6 separate regions of the Homo sapiens genome follow, and regions 2, 3, 4, 5 and 6 are each linked to region 1. Evidence: fine-mapped expression QTL. A gene starts in region 1. Each other region holds a variant in brackets. All regions are shown on one strand. Distances are between the middles of the regions. Region 1 holds the start of LPP (LIM domain containing preferred translocation partner in lipoma). Region 2 overlaps LPP (LIM domain containing preferred translocation partner in lipoma). Region 3 overlaps LPP (LIM domain containing preferred translocation partner in lipoma). Region 4 overlaps LPP (LIM domain containing preferred translocation partner in lipoma). Region 5 has its middle 42 kb from the start of TPRG1-AS1. Region 6 overlaps LPP (LIM domain containing preferred translocation partner in lipoma).

What was found.
Region 2: its variant is fine-mapped to the expression of LPP in whole blood (TOPMed, PIP above 0.99).
Region 3: its variant is fine-mapped to the expression of LPP in whole blood (INTERVAL, PIP above 0.99).
Region 4: its variant is fine-mapped to the expression of LPP in whole blood (INTERVAL, PIP above 0.99).
Region 5: its variant is fine-mapped to the expression of LPP in whole blood (INTERVAL, PIP above 0.99).
Region 6: its variant is fine-mapped to the expression of LPP in skeletal muscle (GTEx, PIP above 0.99).

Annotation. Positions count from the first base shown.
Region 1 is chr3:188,152,437-188,156,526 of GRCh38, reverse strand. It overlaps LPP (LIM domain containing preferred translocation partner in lipoma), which reads right to left and starts at 2,370. Exons shown (of 12, transcript NM_001375462.1): 1 at 2,275-2,370. It overlaps LPP-AS2 (LPP antisense RNA 2), which reads left to right and starts at 2,439. Exons shown (of 1, transcript NR_036497.1): 1 at 2,439-4,090. RefSeq lists enhancers at 237-1,135, 2,935-3,835 and a silencer at 2,163-2,502.
Region 2 is chr3:188,623,486-188,627,575 of GRCh38, reverse strand. All of the region lies in intron 7 of LPP (LIM domain containing preferred translocation partner in lipoma), which reads right to left. All of the region lies in intron 2 of LOC124906316 (a long non-coding RNA gene), which reads left to right. Among named protein-coding and RNA genes, the nearest start is that of LPP-AS1, 57 kb to the right of the region's middle. The variant A/C (reference allele first, on the strand shown) is at 1,635.
Region 3 is chr3:188,870,480-188,874,569 of GRCh38, reverse strand. LPP (LIM domain containing preferred translocation partner in lipoma) reads right to left here. Exons shown (of 12, transcript NM_001375462.1): 11 at 1,807-1,927; 12 at 1-219. The coding sequence ends at 91. Among named protein-coding and RNA genes, the nearest start is that of TPRG1-AS1, 75 kb to the left of the region's middle. The variant C/T (reference allele first, on the strand shown) is at 1,599.
Region 4 is chr3:188,881,784-188,885,873 of GRCh38, reverse strand. It overlaps LPP (LIM domain containing preferred translocation partner in lipoma), which reads right to left. Exons shown (of 12, transcript NM_001375462.1): 12 at 1-4,090. Among named protein-coding and RNA genes, the nearest start is that of TPRG1-AS1, 64 kb to the left of the region's middle. RefSeq lists enhancers at 2,508-3,007, 3,008-3,509. The variant G/TTTTTTTG (reference allele first, on the strand shown) is at 2,142.
Region 5 is chr3:188,903,142-188,907,231 of GRCh38, reverse strand. No RefSeq gene overlaps it. Among named protein-coding and RNA genes, the nearest start is that of TPRG1-AS1, 42 kb to the left of the region's middle. The variant G/A (reference allele first, on the strand shown) is at 1,660.
Region 6 is chr3:188,350,564-188,354,653 of GRCh38, reverse strand. All of the region lies in intron 3 of LPP (LIM domain containing preferred translocation partner in lipoma), which reads right to left. Among named protein-coding and RNA genes, the nearest start is that of FLJ42393, 170 kb to the right of the region's middle. The variant G/A (reference allele first, on the strand shown) is at 2,175.

The sequences.
Region 1 (4,090 bases):
ACCTCTCTCATTGGAATTGGGCAGCAGGGGGCTTCTCGATGCCAGTACCTCCCCTCTAAATCATGTCTCAGCCTGCTCAAAACCCTCAAATGATGAATTTAAGATATATCCAAACTCCTTAGCCTGGCATTTTTAAGCCCCTTTATAACCAAGTTTCCTCTCCCGTCCATCATTTCCTGGAACTGTCTTCACCAGAATGTGTCACTCTAAGAAAGATCCTACTCAAGTCCCAGCCACAGCAATCAGCTCATCAGCTCAGCTTCTCCTCCCTCTGCGTACACTCAAAACCAACTCTAGACCCATGCTGCTTACAGAGAGCCTGCCTCTGGGGGGACTGCCAGACCCTAAGGCCCCAGGCTTTTACCCCTACCATTCAGAATAGGTAATCCCCTCTGGAGCCTACATTCTAGACTATAAAGTTTTGGGTGTTGGGGTTGGGGCCTGCATTGTAGAAATTAAATGCAAAAATGCACACTCTCCTTTGTTTGTTGTTGTTGTTTTTTGTTTTTTTTGAGAGGCAGTCTCCCTCTGTCGCCCAGGCTAGAGTGCAGTGGTGTGATCTCAACTCACTGCAACCTCTGCCTCCCGGGTTCAAGCGATTCTCCTGCCTCAGCCTCCCGAGTAGCTGGGACTACAGTTCCCCGCCACCACACCCAGCTAATTTTTTGTATTTTTAGTAGAGACAGGGTTTTGCCATGTTGCCCAGGCTGGTTTCTAACTCCTGAGCTCAGGCAATCCGCCCGCCTTGGCCTCCCAAAGTGCTGGGATTACAGGCGTGAGCCACCGTGCCTGGCCCACACACTTTTTCCTTTAACTGCCCCCTGGTGCTGGCAGGAACTGTGCAAGCAGAAAAACTGGTGACGAAGTGGAGAAAACCATATTGGATGTCCTAACCCCCCACTGTCCACCATTATTGACCATAGGCTCTAGGTCTAGCACCCACCTTCGTGGACCTTTACCTATTCTTCTATCTATAAGAGTTGAGGAAGGGGGAGGATGGGAGAGGGAGCTAGATGCTTTGTAAAGGTGCCTAGCCACACTTTCCCCTTCTTCACTTTAGGCTTTCTTAAAATGCACATGTGCAGGGAAAGGTAAGCCATTAAGTCATCAACACCTTAGTGAGAGTGAATTTTACAGGAAAGGCAAGAGATTTAGTAAAAGGGGAAGGAATGGAAAGAGAAAGGGGACTGGAAACACAGTTAAGTGAGTTTGGTACTAGCAAAAGCCCCAGAGAAGACCCTGAGTTCTCGCTAGTTGTTTTGTGTTGGGGGAGGGAAAGCAGTGGATCCCTTCTAAGGGAAGGGAAGCCAGAGAGATTTTTCAGTTCTCCTACGACTCCGAGGTTCCAAAGACTCTGCCCTGTCCAAGCACCCAGGCACAATTCCACTGATTAGCTCATCTCATATCACAACCTCCCCCATCCCCAACCCCTTGCCTCCAACTAAAGAATATTTATACTTTCATCTCCATTTCCCACACTACTTAGTCTTCTCTGGCCCACGGTTCCCTCGAAGAGATGTCTTCCTCCAAGCCGCTAGCTGGCTTCAGGAAACTCCTCAACCTCCAAAAACCCCATTCAGTGCAGGACTCTCCAAAAGGCCGTCCCAGGGACCAGAAAATCAAACCCCCTCCCTGGAACTTCCTTTAACTTTGTCCACGCCTTTGCTCCAGCACTTAGCATTTTCTACCCTAGGCCAGGTTTGACTCCCAGGTTCAACTGAGTTCCTTGAGGGCAACGTCCAATACACCCAGCACAGGGTCTGCCACACACAGGGTGCTAGAGAAATGCTTAGAGAAAGGGAACTTAAGTCCGGAGCCAACTATTTGAATTATGGTCTGGCCTCTAGTAAATAACTTCCGGGCGACCCTCCTTCTCTCTGGGCCTCAGCTGCCCCAACTGTAAAATGGGAGGACTTGGAGGACTGGGTCTAGGCCCTTTCCGCTGTGACAACTGTGATTCCGCGAAAGCTCTAAGCGGATGGGCGTGGCCCCGCCCCCTGGGCGCCCAGAAAAGTCCGGGCAGGGGGCGCGCAAGGCTCCAACCCCGCCTAGCCTGGGGTCGACGCTTTTGGAAAAACTCTGGGTCCCCCTCCCCCATGGCGTGCACCCCGTGATTGGGCCGCGGCCGGCACTTCCGCACAGCGGGCCAGGCCAGAGCAGGGCGCGCGCCCTGCGCTCTTGCCACCCCGGAGGCGCTCGCGCCGGGGGAGGGCTGGGGGTTCCCGAGGCGCCCGCGGGTGGAGGGTGAGGGGAAGGAAGGATTTGCAACAATACCTCAGGGAGGAGGCAGCCGGGGCAGCGGCGGTGGTGGTGGCGGCGGCGGCGGCGGCGGCGGCGGCTGGAGGCGGAGGCAGAGGCAGAGGAGGAGGTGCCCGGGCACTCCCCCTCCCATTGTCCCCAGCCCCGGACAGGCCCGGCCCCGCGCCCCACACTGGCCTCCTCGAGCGCGCCGCCCGCGCCCAGCGCCCCACGCCCCGCGCCCCGGGCCGTGCAGCCAGCCCTTACCTTGCAGCGCCCGGCTGTCTCCCGATCGCTAAAGCTACTTATCCCGGGAAAGCTCGCGCGGGACCCGGGAACGAACCCACAGACAAAAAGTGAAACTTCGGCAGGGCTGGAGCGGCTGCTGGTTGGTGCCTTTCCCCCTCCTTCCTCCCCACCGTCCCCACCCCCTCCCCTTGGTCTCCCGTGCGGTGCCCTGAGCGCTGGAGGCTGACGTCAGGGGCCTGAATTCCTGACTTTGCCTGCACGCATTTGTCCATGTAAGGTATGGGAAGGCGTGTGCCCGCGAAGCCGCCGCGCAGAGCTCGCCTGGCGGGGGAGGGGAAACCCGCAGCCGGCAGTGGCTTTGCCAAAAGGTGGGCGCACTGAGGGCATTGCATTTCCTGGGAGGAAGAGGAGGAGACGCGGGAATGCAGGGAGCTTGCAAAGGAGGAAGAGAAAGAGGGAGATGTGGAGACTTTGCCCCTGCTAGAGGAAGAGGAAGGAGACGTAGGAGGAAGCGGCCGCGTCAGGGGGCTCCTGGAAAATGGAAAAGCCTGCGTCTACTATTAAGGCGTCAAATTAGGGCACTGAGCTTGAGTGGAAGAGATCCAGCCATGAAATCCCCTTCCAAGATTTTCCTCGTGAGCCCCGCCCTGGATTCCCAGCAAGACTCAAAACTTACAAGGTGTCAGAGCTGGCAAAGACCAACTTCCAACCCGTCCGCTTGGCACGTGAGGAAACTGAAGCTCTCGGAAGAGAAATGACTTGTACAGGGTCGTCACTCAGCAGATCGAGGAGCGGGCCCAGGCGCTCTGCCTCCCACTTGGGTTCCCGCCTCCAGGAAGGGCCCTGGCTCCCTTTTAGCCCTGAGCCTTGAAGCAGGTTAGATGCCCGCGAGCTGTGCGGACCACCCAGTGATTTCTACTGCTCTTGGCCCAGAGCCAGTTCCTGGAAGGTCCTGGTTGACAGCGAGCCCTGAATATCAATGACAATCAGTTGCTTCAGGGCAACTTCCTCTGTCCTGTGCTCAAATAAATGAATCCCTGGAGTTTAACGTTTACTTCTGAGCCCCGCCCAGAAAGCTTGCTCTGTGCTTATAGCTTCAAAAAAGTCTGCGAACGAGATGAACTGGTTTGAATACAGACAAGCCTGTCATTGGAAGTTTTGAGTTGGATTTTTCTTTCCCCTCTGACATCTGTAAGGGTGAACGACGATGAGAACCACCACTTAACTGTGTTAGGGGATTATGACGCGCAGCAGCCATGGCCAGGAAAGCATTCCATACCCTGAGACTTCCTTTCCTTGCACTTCTCTCCTATTAATATCTAAAGTAATCCCTCACGTTAGCACATAATGAAAGCAGTCTCTCACCCGGCTATTGCATCTTCAGGTGAGTTAGATAGGACAGAGCGTAGTCCCCCCTTTACACCTCAGACAAAAACTTAAGAAACGTTACTCGCCCAACACAAAACAACTGACTGACCAAGCACCTGTCTTCCCCTCCTCCCATCCAGGTCTCCTGACTAATCCCTTCATCTTTCCATACCTGGCCCTGACCTCTAGCAGGACCTAATTCCATTCATAACTGTTGAGAGTACACCATGAGCTA
Region 2 (4,090 bases), 470 kb before region 1:
GAACCCTTTATCATTATGTAATGCCCTTTTTTTGTCCTTTTGAATCATTGTTGGTTTACAGTCTGTTTTTTCTGAAATAGAATAGCAACCTCTGCTTTATTTTGTTTTCCATTTGCTTGATAGAGCTTTCTCCATCCCTTTATTCTGAGCCTAAAGGTGTCACTGCATGTGAGATGGGACTCTGGAAAACAGCATAGAGTTGGGCCTTGCTCCTTCATCCAATTTGACACTCGGTGTCCTTTAAGTGGGGCATTTAGCCCACATAAATTCAAGATTAATACTGATATATAAGCATTTGATCTTGCCATCATGTTGTTACCTGGTTCTTATGTAGACTTGATAGTATAGTTGCTTTATAGTGTTAGCAGGCTATGTACTTAAAGGTGTCCTTGTAGAAGTAGGTAACAGTCTTTCATGCTTATCATTCCCTTAAGGACCTGTTGTAAGGCAGGACTGGTAGTAATAAACTCTCAGCATGAAATTATCTTTGTATTCTCTCTGCAGAAAATATTATGAAATTAGGTTGTACAGTTAGTTAATCAATGAATATGCTGCTAAAAATGTAAGAAAAAGTAATCAGGAATTTAATTCATAAGAGTGTTATTTTTCAAGATTTTTGTGATTTTTGAGGTATTTCATAGCTTTTATTAATGTGATTTTTGAGGTATTTCATAGCTTTTATTAATTTATAACATGTTGCATTTCCTCTGTCATTTAAAATAAATGTTCATTTGCCTACATAATTGTTATGAGCTGAGTCATGTCTCCCTTCAAATTAATATGTTGAAGTCCTAACCCCTAGTATATCAGATTGTGACTGTATTTGGAGAAAGGGCCTTTAAAGAGGCCATTAAGTTAAAATGAGAGCACTAGGGTGGACCTTAATCCAATACGACTGGAGTTGTCCTTATAAAAAGAGGGACTAGGACACAGAGAAGCAGAGGAAAGACCATGTGAGGACACAGAGAGAAGGTGGCCATTTTTATCCAAGGAGAAAGCTCTTAGAGGAAAGCAACCTTGTGAGTACCTTGATCTCAGACTTCTAGCCTCTAGAATTGTGAGGAAAAAAAAATCTGTAGTTTATGTCACTCAGTTTGTGGTACAGTTGTCCCTTCATATCTGCAGGGGATCAGTTCTAGGACTCCATGCAGATGCCAAACTCTATGGATGCTCAAATCCCTTATATATATGATATGCTATACACGTAACCTACACATATCCTCTTACATAGTTTAAATCATCTCTAGATTAGTTAAAATACCCAATACAATGTAAATGCTAGGTAAATACTTGTTATATTGTATTTTGAAATTTGTAGTATTTTCTAATATTTTATTGTTACTTGTTATTTTTTACAAACACTTTCCATTGGCAGTTGGTTGAATTCTGAATGCAGCCTACTTGAATATGAAGGCCTGACTGTATTTTGTTATAGCAGTCCTACCGAAATAATATAATACTTTTATGCATACAGAAGTTATTTCCACAGTGATAAGCTTCAAAGCTTCAGGTTTCATAAAATGTGAATATATCTTAACACACACACACACATACTTATAAATTAATCTCACTGCTCATTATTGAGAGTATTAACTAAAATAGGTAAGGCCCATTCGGTTTGTTAGAAATCCTTT[A/C]TTTTTGCACATACATTTTTACAAATGCTTTCCATTTAACAGCCATTTACATCATAACTACCAAATGGTTAACAGACTTGAATCATTTAATCACAACATTTATTTGGCTTCTGAAATATGTGCAACCTTATCATCTATGGAGTCACTGTCTGCAGACACTTCTTGGATGGAATACTAAGTAATACCTAAATATTAGTCCAGGTCTCTTATTCAGTTTCCTGTTTAATGAATTTCATGTTTATCAATCTAAATGTTAAGCAACTGGAAATGGGCATTCTATAGGCAGAAAAGTTGGAAACTATGATTTCAAGTTCCACATATTTCATATTGTTGATTCTGTATATAAGGGACAAAGATTCAATGATCTATATAGTATGAAAAATTGGAAAACTGACTTGCCTTCTCCGAAATGTTTCATCATCTGTAAAAGAGGATGAATATGCATTATCTCATCATCTCAGTGAGTTCTTTTTTGAGGACCAAATTCACAATGGTTATAAAAATGTGTCCCATTAAAATGGTTTTACTGTTATTTTATCAAAGACAGTGATAAAGTATATATCAATGTATTATCTTAAATATCCCAATACCAGAGGTTTTATGGATTTTTGTTAAAGTCCTAATTATACTGTGAGGCCTTGGGTAGTCATTCTGTGGGTCTTAGTTTTCTTATGAATGGGCAAGATGGCATCTTTGAAAAGCAAAGGCAACATATTTATTTCATCTCTGAAGGTCTAAATATCAATGAATTTCCCATCATTGAACAAATATTTTGGGGTAGCTATTATGTTCTAGAAGAGTATTGACAAAGTTATGTCTTAATTTATAGGACATTTTTATGACTGAAATTAGATAACCCTTAAAATAGAAAACTAGACATCTGTCTTTAATAAGAAATGCTAACACTAAGAATAAAGGGATATAGAAACCTAAGACTTCCCTCACATGATAACATCTTGCTAAAGGAAATAGAAATCATGTGGTTAAAAAAGAAAAAAAAGGAAGAAGGAAAGAAGGAAGGAAGGGAGGAAAGAAGGAAGGAATGAAGGAAGGGAAAATATTTGCAATCTTATCTGTAGAGTCACTGTCTGCAGATTATTCTCAGCACACCAAAGAAGAGAGAAAGAGAGAGAAGGAAGGAAGGAAGGAAGGAAGGAAGGAAAAGGAAGGAAGGAGAAGGAGAAGGAGAAGGGAAGGGAAGGGAAAGGGAAAGGGAAAGGGAAAGGGAAAGGGAAAAGGAAGGAAGGGAAGGGAAGGAGGGAGGGAGGGGAAGGAAGGATATTTCTACTTGACTCCCTATTAATAGTCTGGTACTAGAACTCACAGAACTGCCACAGAAGGCTGAACAGTCCTGGGCTTTTCACATGATCAGGTTCGCACTTCCATGGTTCTCCCAAATATGGCTTTCTAAACAAACTTGGACTAGGCTCACTCACTTGGCATTTCTCCTGCAGGAATGCAACTCAATGTTCTATCCAAAGGTTTCAAGAACGACAGTTTTTGGATGTTTATTTAATCCTCTCTCAAGCCGTGTTTGTTTTGAATAAATGGCAAATGTGATTAGTAAATGGAACATTCATTTTGTTAGACTGCCTCTAAACTCCAGATATAAATGGGCTGGATTTTACAGCTTATTTTAACATTTCCTTTTTCCTATACCCTTTCTCTGATCAGCTCTTCAACGGTGATATAATTTCTTTTAATGCAAATGTACAAAACAATGTTAGTCCTGACTTTTGGCAAGCAGTTCACAAGTTTGGGTGAAAAGACATTGCTCTTGAAAAACAGGTCATTTTTAGTTTTGCTATGTCTTTCCTTCTCACTAGGACATATTGTGCTGATGCAGAACAATGGAGCTAAGGAGGTCTTTAGCTTGTCTTGCATCTATCAGAACTCAGCAGTACTTTCCTCTTTGAGGTTCAATGTTATTGGCTAAAATTTTTGATATTCTGCTTAATTCCACTCTATAGCCCACCAAATACACCCCTCGCCTTGCCGGTTGATTCATAGGTACTTGGCCAGGGCAGGCTAGAAGATGAAAAAGGAAGAGACGACCTGAAGCTCTGTATTAGAGAAACAACTAGGAGGATTGTCTGGCACACACCCGCCCAATGGCCTCATGTTAAGGAGCATCCTCAGCAGCTTAACATATATGTCCTGCTCAAGATAAAAGATAACTAGGTTTAAGACTTAAAGTTGAGTTGCTGCACAGCAGTGACAATTTGAGTTGCTGCACAGCAGTGACAATTTTTTAAAACATACTTTCGCAAGCAGGCAGTGTAGTATAATGGGTATAAACTTGAGGCATGCAGTCTTCAGCAAATAATTTTTTCCCTTTCTCAGTTTCTGACTCAGTAAAAAATCAAGATGTTTATAGTATCTTCAGCCGGGCACGGTGGCTCATGCCTGTAATCCCAGGACTTTGGGGGGCCAAGGCGGGTGGGCCACTTGAGGTT
Region 3 (4,090 bases), 720 kb before region 1:
TATCGCGTAGTTTGATGGCCTTTACTCTAGTATTTCTTATCTTTTTCTTGTGTTCGTTCTTCTCAGTGCCGGCTGAACAGGTGACTGAATCTAAAGGTCAGTGCTCGCCTTGGCGGTCAACACCCTGATGCGGGCAGAGTTGCAGGTCTTGCAGAGGATGTGCCCATCCAAGGGGTAGCAGCCTTGGTTATCTCCTTCAGACAGGAGACCACCGCAATCCTAGAACAGTAAAGACAGATGGAAACGACATAAGTAAAAACGTTAAGTACACATGTGGAGAACATCATGATTGAGCTTTCTATTCAAGGCCTCCATAATGTGGCCACTTACTATCCTTCCTGCTTTACATTCTGCTAATCCCCTGTATCCTTTCTCCCAATATATAACATAGTATATCTTGAATGTAATTGAATTAGAGATTGGGGACATAAATATAAATGGACATAAATATAATCCTCCTAAGCTCACTTGATATGAAATACAGGTATAAGAAGAGAAGAGGCCACCCATCTTGGCTCCCATGTAGAAGTTTGCTGCCCCCACTCAACAAGAGAAAATAAGAATGTCCCTAACCACCGATGCATTTTTTACCCTTTACCATTAGTTTAAGGATCTCTCAAAATGCATGCACAGGTACAGGAATGGAATGTTTTGGCCATTTCTGGCCTAGAGCAAAGGTAGACTGATGTCTGCCAAGCAGAAGGGCCACCAGTGGGTTCGGTGTATTTACTTCAACTGCAGTAAGAAAATAAAATCCTAAAGTTTGTGGGGAGTAGTGGTTTGCTGTACTTTCTAAAGGAGACAGCATTGTGGAGAGCAAAGATTGCTAGTCCAGGGGACAGGCCTCCTGAGCACCACCCACAGTTTTGCTACAGTCTGCCTCAATGCACACAGGCCGACTGCCACTCTGAAAATAACTTCTGCCTTTTCTACCTTACCAAGCTGTTAAGAGGATCAAAGAAGATAATGGATCAAAAAAAAAAATGCAAAGAACTGCATAACTGTAAAGGAATATACTACCGCTGACAGCTCCTCTTAGGGTCCATTTTGAAAAGTGTTATATAACAGTTAAATGCTGGCCTTTGTCTTTGGAGAAAATAGAAGTTTCTTTGGAAAATAAATACATAGTACTTCATCAAGAGGTGTGTGTTTGCTAACTTTAGTATAAACTCTCAAAGGCCACAACAGCTATGAACCTCGCCTCTGCTATCTACCATGGTGGCAAGGAGGTCAATGGAGTTCATGTCTTCATTTGACATAGAATGAAATTTAAGTTAACGGGGTATCCAGAACACAATAGCAGCAATGGTTATACTCTGCGGGAAGTTTGGCTTTACTGAAAAGAACATGCAGATATACTGCAGCTCTAGAGGCGTTCAGGAAACTGAGCAATTAGTAGTGCATGCTAACAAATAAATAAATCTCCATGACTCTGAACAAGAAGTTCTAACCAAAGCCTCAGAGCCAAAGTTAAATGTTCAATAACACCATTTCTCACTAATTTAGTATTTCACAATTTACAATGTCCTTTAATATACAATTTTGTATTTCACTCTCACAGCCATATTTGGAGGAGTTAAGGACTTGAGTCCTTTCTT[C/T]CGGTGAGCAAGCAGACTGAGAGAGGTACAGTGACTTATTCAACAGCATGTGCTCGGAATACTAGTGTCAAATCTAAAACCCAAGTCCTATGAGTACAGGCACTAAGGCCGTTCTGAGATTTAGTAATTGCTACATCTATGTAAACCTAGCTCGAACGAGCCTTTCAACGCCTGCCACAGACTGGCAGGGCAGGGCTGTCAACCAGACCTCGCATCGGTAGCAGTGAACATGGAAATCTCGATCCAAAGCCACAATACGGACAGTCTCCTCCTGGCCCGGGGCTGGCATAATAGGCTCCTTGCACACAGAACATCGCGGGGCAAATTTCCTGAAAGTGAAGAGAGAGTTCTGGTTAGATACTGCGCGTCGACACTGAGGTGGGACGCAGAGGTAAAAGGAAGAGGTGGAAACTGAGAGTCGGTATACCTGCTTCCTCATCCGTAAGGTGAGGGAGTTAGACTCAGGGACTGTGGAGGTTCTTCCATCAATCGGTGGTAAATATTGTGATATTTGGCGAGGTGAGAGAGTGAGCGTGTGAATTGCTTGGGCATGAAGAGCATCTAGCATCTCTTTCCTGCATGGTGCGCGGTATGAAATTCATCTTTAGATAGATTCTGAATGCAAACCCTGTGCTTGGGATAGGCTAACTGGAGGAGAGAACAAAGTCCTGTCCAGCCCCTATTTGTTTCTGACTTTTGTTTCTAGACTTTTGTATGCACTCCTTAGGTCCTAGAAAAATAGTCTGAGGTTGGTATCTTTGCCTTGTTCCCACCTTTTAGAGCTTCTTTCTTGGAAATTTGCCTTGACTTCTAGGAACTGACATAAGAAGACTCAAATACATAGCTTTTCAAAAGGGCAGAGGTTAGTGCGTTTAAATATACATTACACAAAACTTAAAAGTGGCCAAGTCTGCATTTCCTACATTTTTTATTGTGTTAAACTTTTGCTTAAAAATTAAAAGTTAAAGAGCTATCAAATTCTTTATTCTTTAAAGGATTTTAGCACTGTTAAAGGGTGAGTGTATACTAACACACATACACATACATATACATATAAATATGCATATGCATATGTTTTTGAGGCTGCTGGTAAATACTTTTAATACTTATTAATTTCTTAGTATTTCTCAATATGATCAATGGTACCTAACAATTTTTTTTCTATGACAGGTTAATTGGCTGAAAATATAAGCCATGTATCTCTCTGTATCTTCTGGAAATTGGAGATGGTATTTGTGAAGGTATGAAATGACATATTATTTGAAATGGACCTGGATAAGAACTGAAGAGATTTAAAAAAAGAAAAACAGACTGTGACTCAGTTTTTTCATGGTACTGGTTTTAAGATAAACGATGTTAAAAATTTATCTATTTGTAGTGAGACTTAAAAAGAAATAATGATAATAATCTAACTCTTTGCAGAGCACGTTACGGTTGTCAAAGCATTTCTACATACATTATATTCTATATGTAGGTAATTAATTTTCCTGGCAGCACCCAAAAAGCATCTGTATGGCTGCAATCTAAATAAATATGAATTAAGCAGCAGATCAATTGATTGCTGTGAAAGAAAAGTTAGAAGGATCATGGTACCACTGCAGCAGTAATCAGAGTTGTTATAATTGGTATTTTATGCAAGAAGTTTATATTCAGTGGCAAAAAATTGCTTTGGACTACCAGATTATTTTTAAATCTGGGTCATCAGTGGTGAAATAAGTAGGCTTCTGGGATCAACTGCAAAATTTCCTTTCCCCAAACTCTGTGGGAGCAGAAGTATGTTTTCCTTTTCAGTGTATCCATAAGCCTTCTCCAATTTCCCCAAATAGAATTATTTACTCCTCTAAGATAAGAATTCTGTCATTGAATTTATCCATTTTGGTAGTAATTATTTGGATATATTTATGGGGCACTAAACTCTAAGTTTCCACAAGATAGGACTTTGCTCCATCTCTGAGTCTCCAGGAACAACCACTGTGACTGGTGCAGAAAAAAAAAGTTGGGCTGTATCTAATGAAATGAATCTGCCATATTTCTGTATAAAAAAAGATATTAGTTGGGCTTTATGTTCAATCTCAAGGTTCTTCCTCTTTGGGAAGACATAAACTGTATTCTTGCTGAGTAATGATTCTTTCCTACCAATTGGCCTCATTTCCATAATGAGAAAAACCAAAGCGAAGAGGCAGGAGGTGGTTCTCATAGTCCCCACAGTGTTCCTCCGATAGCAATTCGAGGAGGGCTCACAATCCCAGGTGGTCTATTTCAAGGCTTAGCTCACTGAGTGGACAATAATCGTAAAAGTAAATTTGATGAAAACAACTTTCGATGATTAAAGCTACCATTTATTGAGTGCTTATTATGTGCCAAGCCCTGTTAAGTGCTGTACACACTTGACGTAATTTTCTACTGACAGCAACATTATGAGGAAGTATTTTTATCATTTCTACTTTACAGCCAACAGAGCGAAGGCTCAGAGAGGGATGATCTTGGTCATC
Region 4 (4,090 bases), 730 kb before region 1:
TGCAAATCAAAACCACTATGAGATACCATCTCACACCAGTTAGAATGGCAATCATTAAAAAGTCAGGAAACAACAGGTGCTGGAGAGGATGTGGAGAAATAAGAACACTTTTACACTGTTGGTGGGACTGTGAACTAGTTCAACCATTGTGGAAGTCAGTGTGGAGATTCCTCAGGGATCTAGAACTAGAAATACCATTTGACCCAGCCATCCCATTACTGGGTATATACCCAAAGGATTATAAATCATGCTGCTATAAAGACACATGCACACTTATGTTTATTGCGGCACTATTCACAATAGCAAAGACTTGGAACCAACCCAAATGTCCAACAATGATAGACTGGATTAAGAAAAGGTGGCACATATACACCATGGAGGTGAGGCACTTTTCTAGTCTGTGAACGTGCATCTCAACCAAAGCCACCACTCTCCCGCTCCCATTAATGTCGCCCTTATTCCTCAGGCATGAGGACTAGGAAGGGGTGAGAAGTCATTTGCTATTTAACTTGGCTCTCATTAGTCCCAAGGAATAAGCAGGTGGATGATGATACTGGCTTGATGGATGATAACACTCCAGGGAGGGAAATGCATAAAACACTTATCAGGTGTGATTATTTTAAAGGATTCTTAGATTTAATGCAGGAGATTTAATGAGAAGAAATGATATTTTTTCTCTCACTTCACATATTTTAGGATATAGCAAACAATGAAAGGAGTGAAATGAGAGGAAATAAAAAGTGGAAAGCACACCCTAAAGGTACAGCTTCCTGAGGGACGCAGCTCAAGAGAAGGAACACTTGCTTGCTGAACTGTTACGTAGAGCAACTTCTAGAGCATACATGGAGACTTTCTAGGAGGTTTTTTGAAAACAACATGGTACCAAATTCCTTGTAATTATAAAAAATCACAAAATGACAGCATCCTGGGAAGCAAAGTCTATCAAATGGCAAAGGCCAAATCTCAGAAATGCCAACAGTTCCATAACATTTGTTTTCAGACATTGTTAGCTCATGGATCGGCTCTATCGGAAATGCCTGTTGCAGCAACATGCACGTGGTGTGCTCTCAGTAAATGTGAATGGAGAGAAAGACTAAAATGCATTGCTAACCTACGGCGGTTTCTGCCTCTGTGGAACGTACATCGTGGTTCATGGGAGAGAGGCTTCTTTTAGGAATCGAGTCACCTCTACATGCCAATGAATTCTAAATGATATGGTCTTGGTTGATATTCTGAACCTGACAGTTCCAGAGAGGTTTTTGGTGAATGGAATGTAAAGGAACTCTCTCTGGGGAAATTTATTGCAATGTGCTTCCTTCTGCCCATTGTTTGTTCTTATCAGTGGCCTTTTCCCACCAACTTCCTCACAGTGCTGATCAGACAGAATACCTAGAGGTTTCCCACAAGAAGACACAGATGTGTGCAAGCTCTAAATGATCTCTAAAGACCGCAGTACACATGTGGATTTGCCACCTGGCAGTCAATTGGTCTCTGAATTTCCCTGGATGACTGGGGGCTTGGTAGTCTGTAAGAAGTCGATATTGTCCTCTAAGGTGTTCTCAGCTGTGAGCGTGGCTACTTGGAGACAGCACTGGACTTGCAAGACCTGGTTATATCCCCAAATCTGCCACTTCCCAGCTATGTCACAGCTTTTGGCAAGTCACTTAATGGCTTGAGCCTCAGCTTTCTCTTCTAGAATAGGGGTACTAATAACTGTCCTCCCTGCGCTATTTTCTGTGTGGAAGCAGTTTGTAAGCTCTCTTAGGAATTACTATTTTACAGCTCAGAAAGTTACCTCCAGGTCCTGCCCAGGAGACTGATGGCAGTTTCTGCTTACAGTGCTCTCTCATTCAAAGTTGGGGTAGAAGAAGCCACAATCATGGTCTTCCCCATGACAAAGGTATATTATTTAAACTAAATAGTCATCCAGAGCAATGAGGAAAGCATTTGTACATTTCCATAGAAAACTATAGCATAATAGAACCCCTCTCCTCAAGAACGATATCCTTTTCCACAGATGAACTAACTAGAAATAATGAGTTTTCGGCAATACCACTATCTTTTGCTTTTGACTTCTTCCTTGTTAGACATGGGGATTATACACCAATATTTCCCAACCTTTTTTTTTTTTTTTTTTTTTT[G/TTTTTTTG]AGACGGAGTCTCGTTCTGTCGCCCAGGCTGGAGTGCAGTGGCGCAATCTCTGCTCACTGCAACCTCTGCCTCCTGGGTTCAGGTGATTCTCCTGCCTCAGCCTCCCAAGTAGTTGGGACTACAGGCGCCCGCCAACACGCCCGGCTAATTTTTGTATTTTTTTTAGTAGAGTCGGGGTTTCACCATGTTGACCAGGATGGTCTCGATCTCTTGACCTCATGATCCGCTCGCCTCGGCCTCCCAAAGTGCTGGATTACAGGCACGAGCCACCGCGCCCGGCCCATTTCCTAACATTTTTAAGGTCATTATCAACAAGTCAGATAAAAGGGGTGTACTGTTCATGGGTTAGTTACTGGGGAAGGCATGAAGCTACACAACAACTGTCAGAACGGTCTGTCTTCTAAATAGGAAAGTACAACCAGCAACAAAAAAACTCACAAATTCTAATGTCTGGCCCTCAGAACATCCTTCAGACTAATTTTAGAGATTCTTAAAAATTCAAAAAAGTAATGCAATGCCCAAAACAAAACAAATATATATGGAAGGAAAAGGAGGGGGGAAGCAACACTGTATCATGTACTACAGGTTTTGTGTGGCACCAAAGAGAACATATGCCCCAAAGGCTGGCTCTGTTTTAAAGTCGTGTAGCTTGGAACAAAATGTGCTGAAAGAAATGTAAGACCTCAAGGAATAATGAGCTCCCTGATACAGGTGATGTTTAAGTAGAGTCAGAATTGGCACTTTGGGAGGCCGAGGCGGGCGGATCACGAGGTCAGGAGATCGAGACCACGGTGAAACCCCGTCTCTACTAAAAGTACAAAAAAAATTAGCTGGGCGCGGTGGCGGGCGTCTGTAGTCCCAGCTACTCGGGAGGCTGAGGCAGGAGAATGGCGTGAACCCGAGAAGCGGAGCTTGCAGTGAGCCGAGATTGCGCCACTGCACTCCAGCCTGGGCGACAGAGCAAGACTCCGTCTCAAAAGAAAAAAAAAGAATTGGCACTTAGCAATGAATCTGTAAGGGAATTTTAATACCAAGTAGAAAAGATGGCTGGGAAGTCCTTTCTAATAATGGACTCAGACTCAATAGGAAAATAGAGATGTCCTGCTTGTTCTTTTGTGGAGGGTCAAAGGACATGTACCCTTGCTGCAAGAATAGAAGATGTAGCTGTGGATCAATAAGAATGCTCATATTCTGTGATAATAAAGTTCATGGAGGGCTGCTTCCTGTCCATACTGTGCATGCTGGGTTATATTTTGGCAGATCATCTTCTCTTCCAATTATAAAGAGATGGGAAAAGCAAGTAAATACTTCCTCAGGCTTCCTCTATGCCTTTTTCTTCCCATTCAGCCTGATTATTTGGAAGCCTTTTTTTTCTGTTAAGAAGGAATTTCCAGAATCCATGATATTTTGGCCAATGCAGAGGGTCTTCTCTGAGTATAGCCCATGTTTCCCTGTTGTGCCTTAAATACTCTTTTCTCAACTTCTAAATCAAGTCAAAGAATCAGCTCAAGATTTCTTATCAAATTTTATGTACTCCATAAAGTCTTACTAATGTCACTGGAATGACTCTTCCTGATGTCACATTCCTTCCTATTGAGTAAGTACAGATTTAAGTGGTTGGATCTTATTACAGTTGGCCAGAATCAAAGTTACTTAGGGGCTGATTCTCTAACAGTGATTATTTGGTAATTATAAATTGAAGAGCTGAGTAAGAGATAAGGATGTTGGGAGAACAAAAAGAAAAGAAAAATATGGACTCCTAAATGATTAGAGAAAGAAGCTGCTCACTTTTTCTAACATGTAACGTCTCTAGGTACAAATATTTGAGCACAGAATGAATGAATCTCGAAATCAATCAACCAGCAAATATTTATGTATAACCTGTAAAGTGTCCATATATTAAAGTAGAACCTATAAAGTGTTAATATTTAATATGAAAATATGGAGG
Region 5 (4,090 bases), 750 kb before region 1:
ATAGTTCAGCTGAGTTAGACACGTAAAAACAGAAACAATGTAGCATCTAGCATGATCTGTGCTGTAAATATGCCAGCCATTAGGGTATCTTAGAGAGAGGTGGCTAGAATCCAGGTATCAGAAGAGCACCAAGTCTATTCCGTAAAGATCTGAAATAAAGAGAGAAGTGCTAAAACAAGAAATTGGATAAAACATGAACAATAGGGACCCGGTAACTGAGTGCAGAACCAGCTAAGCAGGACCAGATGTTAGGCAACAAATGATGTGTATTTGGGTGGAAATAGAACTGATCTAGAAGAAAAGAGAGAGTGTGCACAAGGGTCAGAGCATGTACAGCACAGGTAGGCTCCTGGGGAAAGTTGGACTGACACCGCCAGCAAGCCACGAGACGTGGTTCAGACCCTCTGCTTGAAGGCCCCTCTGTTGACTGGGATTCGGTGTGATACTGCTAATAGTTTTATAATGTCCTAATTATTATTATTATTTTGCACCTTGAAGTGACTTTTTGAAGGTCATATTGAAGCTACAAATAGGCCCCCAGACTCCACAGATTCTCCTGTTGCCTAAGGACTCCCAACACTGCAGATCGAGAAGACGAGGCAAAGAGAGCTACACTGTGAACTACGGATGTGGTGGGGAAGTGGAAACCAAGCCGACATTTGGTGTGTTGTAGCATTCCCAGCTCTGGTTTAACACAAGCGATGTGTTTTGCTCACAAACTGGCACTGAGAGCTCATTTCCATTTAAATAAGAGGCTTGTTAATGCCAGCAGGAGGACGCTGTCAATGCCAAGCCTGGCTAAGGATTCCTGCCAAGGAGTTTCTAAGAGCATCGCTCTAGGAAACTCCCCCAGAAGAGAAGCAAGCATGCCTTCTCATTAAGACAACTCCACCACAGTGACATTTGCCTCAGAGCGGCAAGCCTTTGGCTGGGCTGAAAGCAAGTTGTTGAGTCTTGGAAAGTTGTATGTTGCCAAGACAGTCGTTTAGTTCAATTTGGCTCCACACACACTCAGAGACCACCTGGCACGTGTGAGATGCCCTGGTTGGGAGGATGGCTCATTCCTGCCCTCTGGCACCTCCCAGTCACATTGGGAGGACCGGGTGTTATGAAGAAGCACATACAGAAGATCCTGTTACAACGTAAATAGAGGGCCTTCTCCATTGTCAGATAATTCAGTATTGGAAGATTCTTCCTAACATTAACAGGAAACATGTTTGTCTACAGCAGATATCATGTACTCAAATGCCTACAGATGCCAAGCAAGAAACATGGATGGGTGAAATGGGCTGCTTATAAAAACCTTCAGAAGTGGCTGGGATTTTAGTAACCTAGAGTGAACCTCTCTAGTCTAAAGGGGCAAGCACTGCTCAGCAAGATCTGATCTTGGGTTTTATAAACATGGGTCTTGTCCTACGCAGCTTAAAAATTAATGGGGAAGTCAGATCATTAGACATGAATTTCAACACAGTTTATAAGTTCTCTAACAGGGAAGTAAAAAGTGCTGTAGAAGCACTTGATAGTAGCACATAACCCAAAATTTAGGAGTCATGAAGGAATTGATGTTTAAGTTCAACCTGAGTGATAAGCAGAAGTTGCCTAAATAAAGATGGGTGGGGTGGCCGGGCACATGCCTGTAATCTCAGCACTTTGGGAGGT[G/A]GAGGAGGATGGATCACCTGAGGTCAGGAGTTTGAGACCAGCCTGGCCAACATGGTGAAACCCCATCTCTACTAAAAATACAAAAAATTAGCCAGACATGATGGTGCGTGCCTGTAATCCCAGCTACTCAGGAGGCTGAGGCAGGAGAATTGCTTGAACCAAGGAGGCAGAGGTTGCAGTGAGCTGAGATCACGCCATTGCAATCCAGCCTGGGAGACAAGACTATCAAGAAAAAAAAAAAAAAAGATGGGTGGGGAGAGAGGGAAAAGCAAGTGCAAAGGCCCTGAGGCAGGAGAGAGCAAAATAGGTAAACTAGCAGCATTGAGATTAAGTAGAGGAGTGAAAAGATCAGGACTAGTGCTGGTTGAGTCTTCTAAAGGTTCTTATCCCAGTTCTGATAAAGGAAGTAGCAAGGTAGATAAGAGTTCAAGGCCGGGCGGGGTGGCTCACACCTGTAATCCCAGCACTTTGGGAGGCCAAGGCAGGTGGATCACGAGGTCAGAAGTTTGAGACCAGCCTGGCCAATATAATGAAACCCTACCTCTACTAAAAATACAAAAATTAGCTGGGTGTGGTGGCACTCCTGTATTCTCAGCTACTGTGGAGGCTGAGGCAGAAGAATTGCCTGCATCCAGGAGACAAAAGTTGCAGTCAGCCAAGATTGCACCACTGCATTCCAGCCTGGGCGTCAGGGTGAGACTCTGTCTCACAAAAAAAAAAAAAAAAAAGAAGAGCTCTGGACTTGAAGTCAGAAGTTTCTATAAATAGAACCCCTGGGCTGTGGTTCCATTTATACCACTCTGTGAACATGGTACATCTCAGTTACCTCTCCTGGAAAAAAGGAAGAATATATATCAATGTAGGTGAAATAATGGGGAAAAAAGAACTGTCCTACCATATTGATTATATGGTAACACAGTAAATGATTATTAAAACTTTCCTGTTAGTATTTTTGACAGTATGTATCCGAAGCCTTAAGAGCATGAATTTTCTTGTACCTAGCAATTCGTTTCTAATTATTTAGCCTTTAAAAAGTTAAGGATATGTGCACATATTCAACTACAATGGTGTTCAATGTAGTTTTGCTTATAAAAGCCCCCCAAAAGCATAATTTAAGCGTCTGCTGACTAGATATTTCTAAAGTCCTTTATTCTACTGAGATCATTTTGGCCTTTAATATTTAAACAAGATTGGATCAGCCAATTTTCTTATGCAGTGAAAACCTTCTGACCCAAATACCAATATCTCTGGCGATTCTTGTTTTCCTACTCGCCTCTGCCTCCAAATTCTGTTTAATTCTCTATCCCTACTCCATATTTCGTACCTGTCCCTGCTGTCCCTTTTTTACAATGTATCACCCTGCATAATACAACCCACCCCAAATATCCTTTACTCTTCCAAGTACCTGGGCCACAGCAAGGAGTATGATCAACTTTTTTCTGAAGGTTTGTGCAACGGAAGGGTTAACATCCCAACAGACAACTACCTTGCCTAGTGGGGACTCCTCTCCCCATGTCTAAGCCTCTTTCCATCTCCTCCTGTCTTTCTTTTTCCAGGATTCCTTATTCTTGGCCTCTTCTTTGGCTACACATCCCCAAGCTATTTGTCTTACTTTGTATTTTTCAAATTCATCTGGCTCTCCTTTTCAATTCTACCTTAGCCTAACTGAGATTCATGAACAGGTTCTATGCAGGCCCTTACCTATTAACAGCACAGAGGAGTCAAGAGGTCTTGATTTAAGATTCCCCTCTCTCTTTCTTGTTACCGCAATGGTCTCTGTAAGTGAAAGGAAACAGTATAAGTATTTGTTTCTCTATTCATATGCAGTATGCTAACCTTCTCCTATTTTTGAAGGCAAAATTGAGACAATGTTTTTTTTAATGCCCTTACTACCCTTGGAAATAATCTCAATGTCCAAAAACTGAGGGTTAAATAAACCATGGTACCACCATGCTATGGAGCACAGCAGAGCTACTAAGATGATGCTATAGAACAGGTATCAACATATTCAGGATACGGTTAAGGGAAAATCTTCAGGATATACCGTTAAGTGAAAAATGAAAATATAAAACTATATATACTACAACTCCATTTTAAGATATATGTGTGTAGGCTGGGTGTGGTGGCTCACATCTGTAATCCCAGCACTTTGGGAGGCAGAGGCAGGAGGATTACAAGATCAGGAGTTCGAGACCAGCCTGGCCAACATGGTGAAACCCCGTCTCTACTAAAAATACAAAAAATTACCTGGGCGTGGTGGAGGGCGCCTGTAATCCCAGCTACTTGGGAGGCTGAGGCAGGAGAATCGCCTGAACCCGGGAGGTGCAGGTTGCCATGAGACAAGATCCCACCACTGCACTCCAGCCTGGGCGATAAGAGCAAAACTCTGTCTCAAAAAAAAAAAAAAAAAAAAAAAAAGATATATGTGTGT
Region 6 (4,090 bases), 200 kb before region 1:
CTATAAAGATAGTGTTTGGTTTCCATCTAACTTCAAATAATATAATTTTCTAAAGTTTCACTTTGCCTAAAACTGTAAAAGAAAAAAAACATCCATTCCTCCCCACTAAAAACCCAAGTCTCAATATCAACTTTTCTTTGGTGATTCCAAAGTTATTATATACATTGAAAATACAGAAAACTTTATTTTAAAAACCATAAAGCCACCACACAGAGACACGCACACAAAGTACAGAAATAGGCCCACATGCATCTCTGTCTTACGTATTCAACTTTCCCTCTGGACATTATGCCATTATTATTCAAATTATTCTCCTCCTTAAAAGCCTGGAAAGGTACAAAAAAGAAGCATGAAACCTGTATTTAACAAGATGTTACATTCACTACAGATCAGCTTTGCCTCCGTACTGAAATTTAAATTAGTCAATGGTGTTTTTCCTGAGAATATACATTAAAAAAAGAAGACTGCTCGACATTTGTGTGTGTGTGTTTTTCTTTTCAGAAAGAATATAGAATGTTATCAACAAACCTCATCTAAATCCTATAAAAGTTAGGAAAGTATAATGAATGTCATCTAATGAATATGGCAAATATTGAGAAAACCTACAGAACATCAATATCAGACAAAATCTGGGTTTTAGCTGTAGCATTTAAAAATTCCTGCATCCTTTTTTTGAAACCAAAAAAAAAAAAGTGGTCTAGTTTTGTTCTCAGCTTAATTAGTCAATTCATTTAGGGCAGAGTGCCTTTTTCTTTATATTACATATGTGCCTAAATTTGTTAAAAGTTAAAGGAGTCTTACAAACTAGTTCAAGGCTTATTTCAAATTAAGGAAATTAAAGAAGACAGAAATGCAGTATTTTCCTTCTGGCTTTACTGAAAACAAATCAGCTAAAGTGTTACCCAAAGCATAACAGCATTTAAACCTGAGGCCCCATAATTCTTTTCCCAAACTCATAAGGAGGCAGATTACAACATAAAAAGACTGAAGACTCCTCAGCAGAAGGCTGAACCACTGTCAATGAAGTAAGACCTCTTCGGTATGTAGTGGGGGAAAGCAGAAGTAACATTACAATATTTGGAGACAAAAGATCTAAATGCAAATCAAATCTCCATCACCTGTTCCTAGAGGTAAATTTGAGCAGTCAATTGAATTTTTTTTCTTCATTGTAAAATAAGGATAATAATAGACAGTGTATTGGGTTTATGAAAAATAATCACACATAAGAATTCTTAACAAAATCTAATTCGGTGAGAACATTTTTCCACAAAATAATCATTTGCCAATTTTCACCAGCAATTAGTAAACATTTTTTAGAGGTCATCCGAATCCAACTAAGTTCAACTCAACAAAAACTTACTGGATGCTCATCCTGTGTTTAGATCTCTTCCAGGTGCCTGATTAAAAGGTAGGGCAAGAATAAAAAGTGGAAGGGAGAAAGGCCCATTTAAGTCACAATTTCTGCTCCCGAGGACCCTGTAATCTTGTGGCGGAGACCACATTTCACATATAAACTATTGGAAAAATACTTGACATTATACAGTACTCCAAAAAAAGCATGGTACTGACAATGAACGGCTCTTGTGGAAGTTTTAGGTGAGGTCTTACGTGAGGTCAGAAAAGGGTTCAGAGCAGTGAGAACATGGCATTATGATTATCTATCCCAGCCCCTTTAAGCACTCACTTCTCAAGGAACCCATCTGCGGAATCTGATAAGAAACATTCTCCCCCAGAAAAGTTTCTGTGGATGGACATGTTAGTGGCACCTTGGCCATTTACTCTGGGCTTCTTACTCTCCTTCACTTTCCCGTCGCTGCCTCTGCACTGAGTTACTCTCCGTGTCTTCACCTTCTCTGCCCACTCCTAGGCACGGCAGTGTCACCAGCCCATCCCTCTGCAGCTTTCAGGACTGAAGTGCGCACTCAGGCAGGGCTCAGTGCCGTGCATGCAGCTGGAACATCAACAAGCAGGGAAACAAGACCTGACCTCCTCTCCCAGCCTTCTCTCTATGCACTCTGTGGCCTTGAGCAAGTCACCTCCGCATAATGCGCCTCACTGTCCTCACACATCAAATGAGAGTACGGGATATTCACAAGCCCTTCTTGCTCCTAAACATTCAATGTCTGTGCCTGATCTACAGTTTCCAACCGTTTCCAAGTGGCAACTGAGGGCTC[G/A]CCAGTCACACAGCTCCCGAAGAGGCACTGACGTGACCACATCAACAGCTTCTATTGTGGGGAAGGTCAGCGACTCCTTCAGAAAATAGCTGATCTAAACAGAGCCCAAGGAGTGTCATGGCAACACCGCTCACAAGCTGCCAAAGGTGGGGAGAAAAAGCAGCCAATACGTGTGCGCAGCTGCCACATTTCAGAACAGCAATCAAACCTCGTTAATATCATCTTGCTTAATACCAAGTCCCATAGATCATAAGCTATTTTTATTGTGTATTTAACAGATTTGTGTATTGTCTTCCCTGCCAGAATCTTCACAGTCCAATACAGAAGACTCTGCCATCACAGAGCCTTAAGACCTGCGGCCACCCAAGGTTAAGTCAGGAGAAGGAGGAAGGGGAAGAAGCAAAAGTAATAGAAGAAAAATGACAAGGGGGGAGGAAATAATACACGTTGAGGTCGAGGCTAGCTAGGGAAGAGGCAGGAGTAAAATGTAGTAAGTGCAAGTAAAAGCCAATGCTACAGACACTCAAGAACGAGGCACTCAGGTTGCAGCTCTCCAAAGACTCAGATGTATGTGTGGAAAGGAGAGTAGAAGAGCTCAGTCTTCTGGTACACTCGGGTGACCACAAGTCCCCCAACGCCAATTTTGATCACAACTTCTGCTTATTTTCACAGTCTCTACAATCCATATCCCTTAGAAGAGCCATGCATGCTACTCTGCAGAGCCCTACACCCGTGTTCTAGGAGGGAAGCATCTATCCACTACCGAGTGCCTTTCAGAGCTTACAGGAAAGAGCTTCTGCTAAATGTCCTATTTAGAAACAATCTGTCTCCCTCATGGAGGAATGGGAATTCTAGCTTTTGATGACTGACCAAGCTAAACTATGTGAAAACACCTGTCACAAGGCCTGTCACATAACAGACATACAATGAATGTCTACTTCTTTCCATCTGTTTAATACAGCAGCAGCAGCACCTGTATTACCTTTATTCTTAGTGGTCTTCATAGAAACAAGGACTCCAGACAGAGCCTGTAGAGTCCTAAGAAGAGACTCAAGTGCCAACCATCTCTCCAATGCTTGGTGAGATGTGGGCACGATTTGCAGAACTGCCACTAACTATGCAGGCAAATTTAAGTAAGTCATTTCTTCCCTGGGGTGGGGGAGCTGGACTAGATAGGTTTTAACTTCCTTTCCAGTTCCGAAATTCTTTAAGCCTATAAGTCTCATATCCATCTCAGAAACAAGCAATAGGCAGAGAGAAAAACTATTGCAGAACATAGTCATTTGCTTCTCTACTGAGCACTATGTCTGGGGCCCTGTGCCAGGAGCTACAGGGAACTCAGAGAAGCAGAAAGTAATCCTTAAATTCAAAGCCTTTAAAATATGTATGAGGGATGAGATGGGGGTGGAAACATGGAAAGATGGCAATACAAAATAAAGTTTAATTATAAAACAAAGTCCATTGCTAAGACTGAATTCCAGAGCCAAAGAGCAGACAGGGATGACTTTCGTGGGAGAAGGGGTACGTGCTGGTTCCTCAGGCAGGAAAGCAAGGCCCACACAGGCAAAATGGCAAGGGGTGTATTTTATAAGAGCTGGCCCTCTGTGGTGGAAGGGTGATCAATATCTGGGATAGTTAAATCTCTTATTCGTTTTATGTCTTAGATTCCCTTAACATCCTATGTTTCATACATTAAAAACTAGAATAATAATGTCCACCCCACCTATCTTCATCATAATGCTCTGTGGACAGTAAGAAGAATATAAAATAGAGGCAGGACACCTGGGTCCCAGGCCTTGCTCCATTGCTGCTATTCTAGTGCCAGGATTTTGCTAAGTGGATAACCTGGCTGTGTGATAAGAGACTTTGTAGAATTTCAGCTAGAGTTCTTGAGGCTTCCTGAGAACTATCTTGTT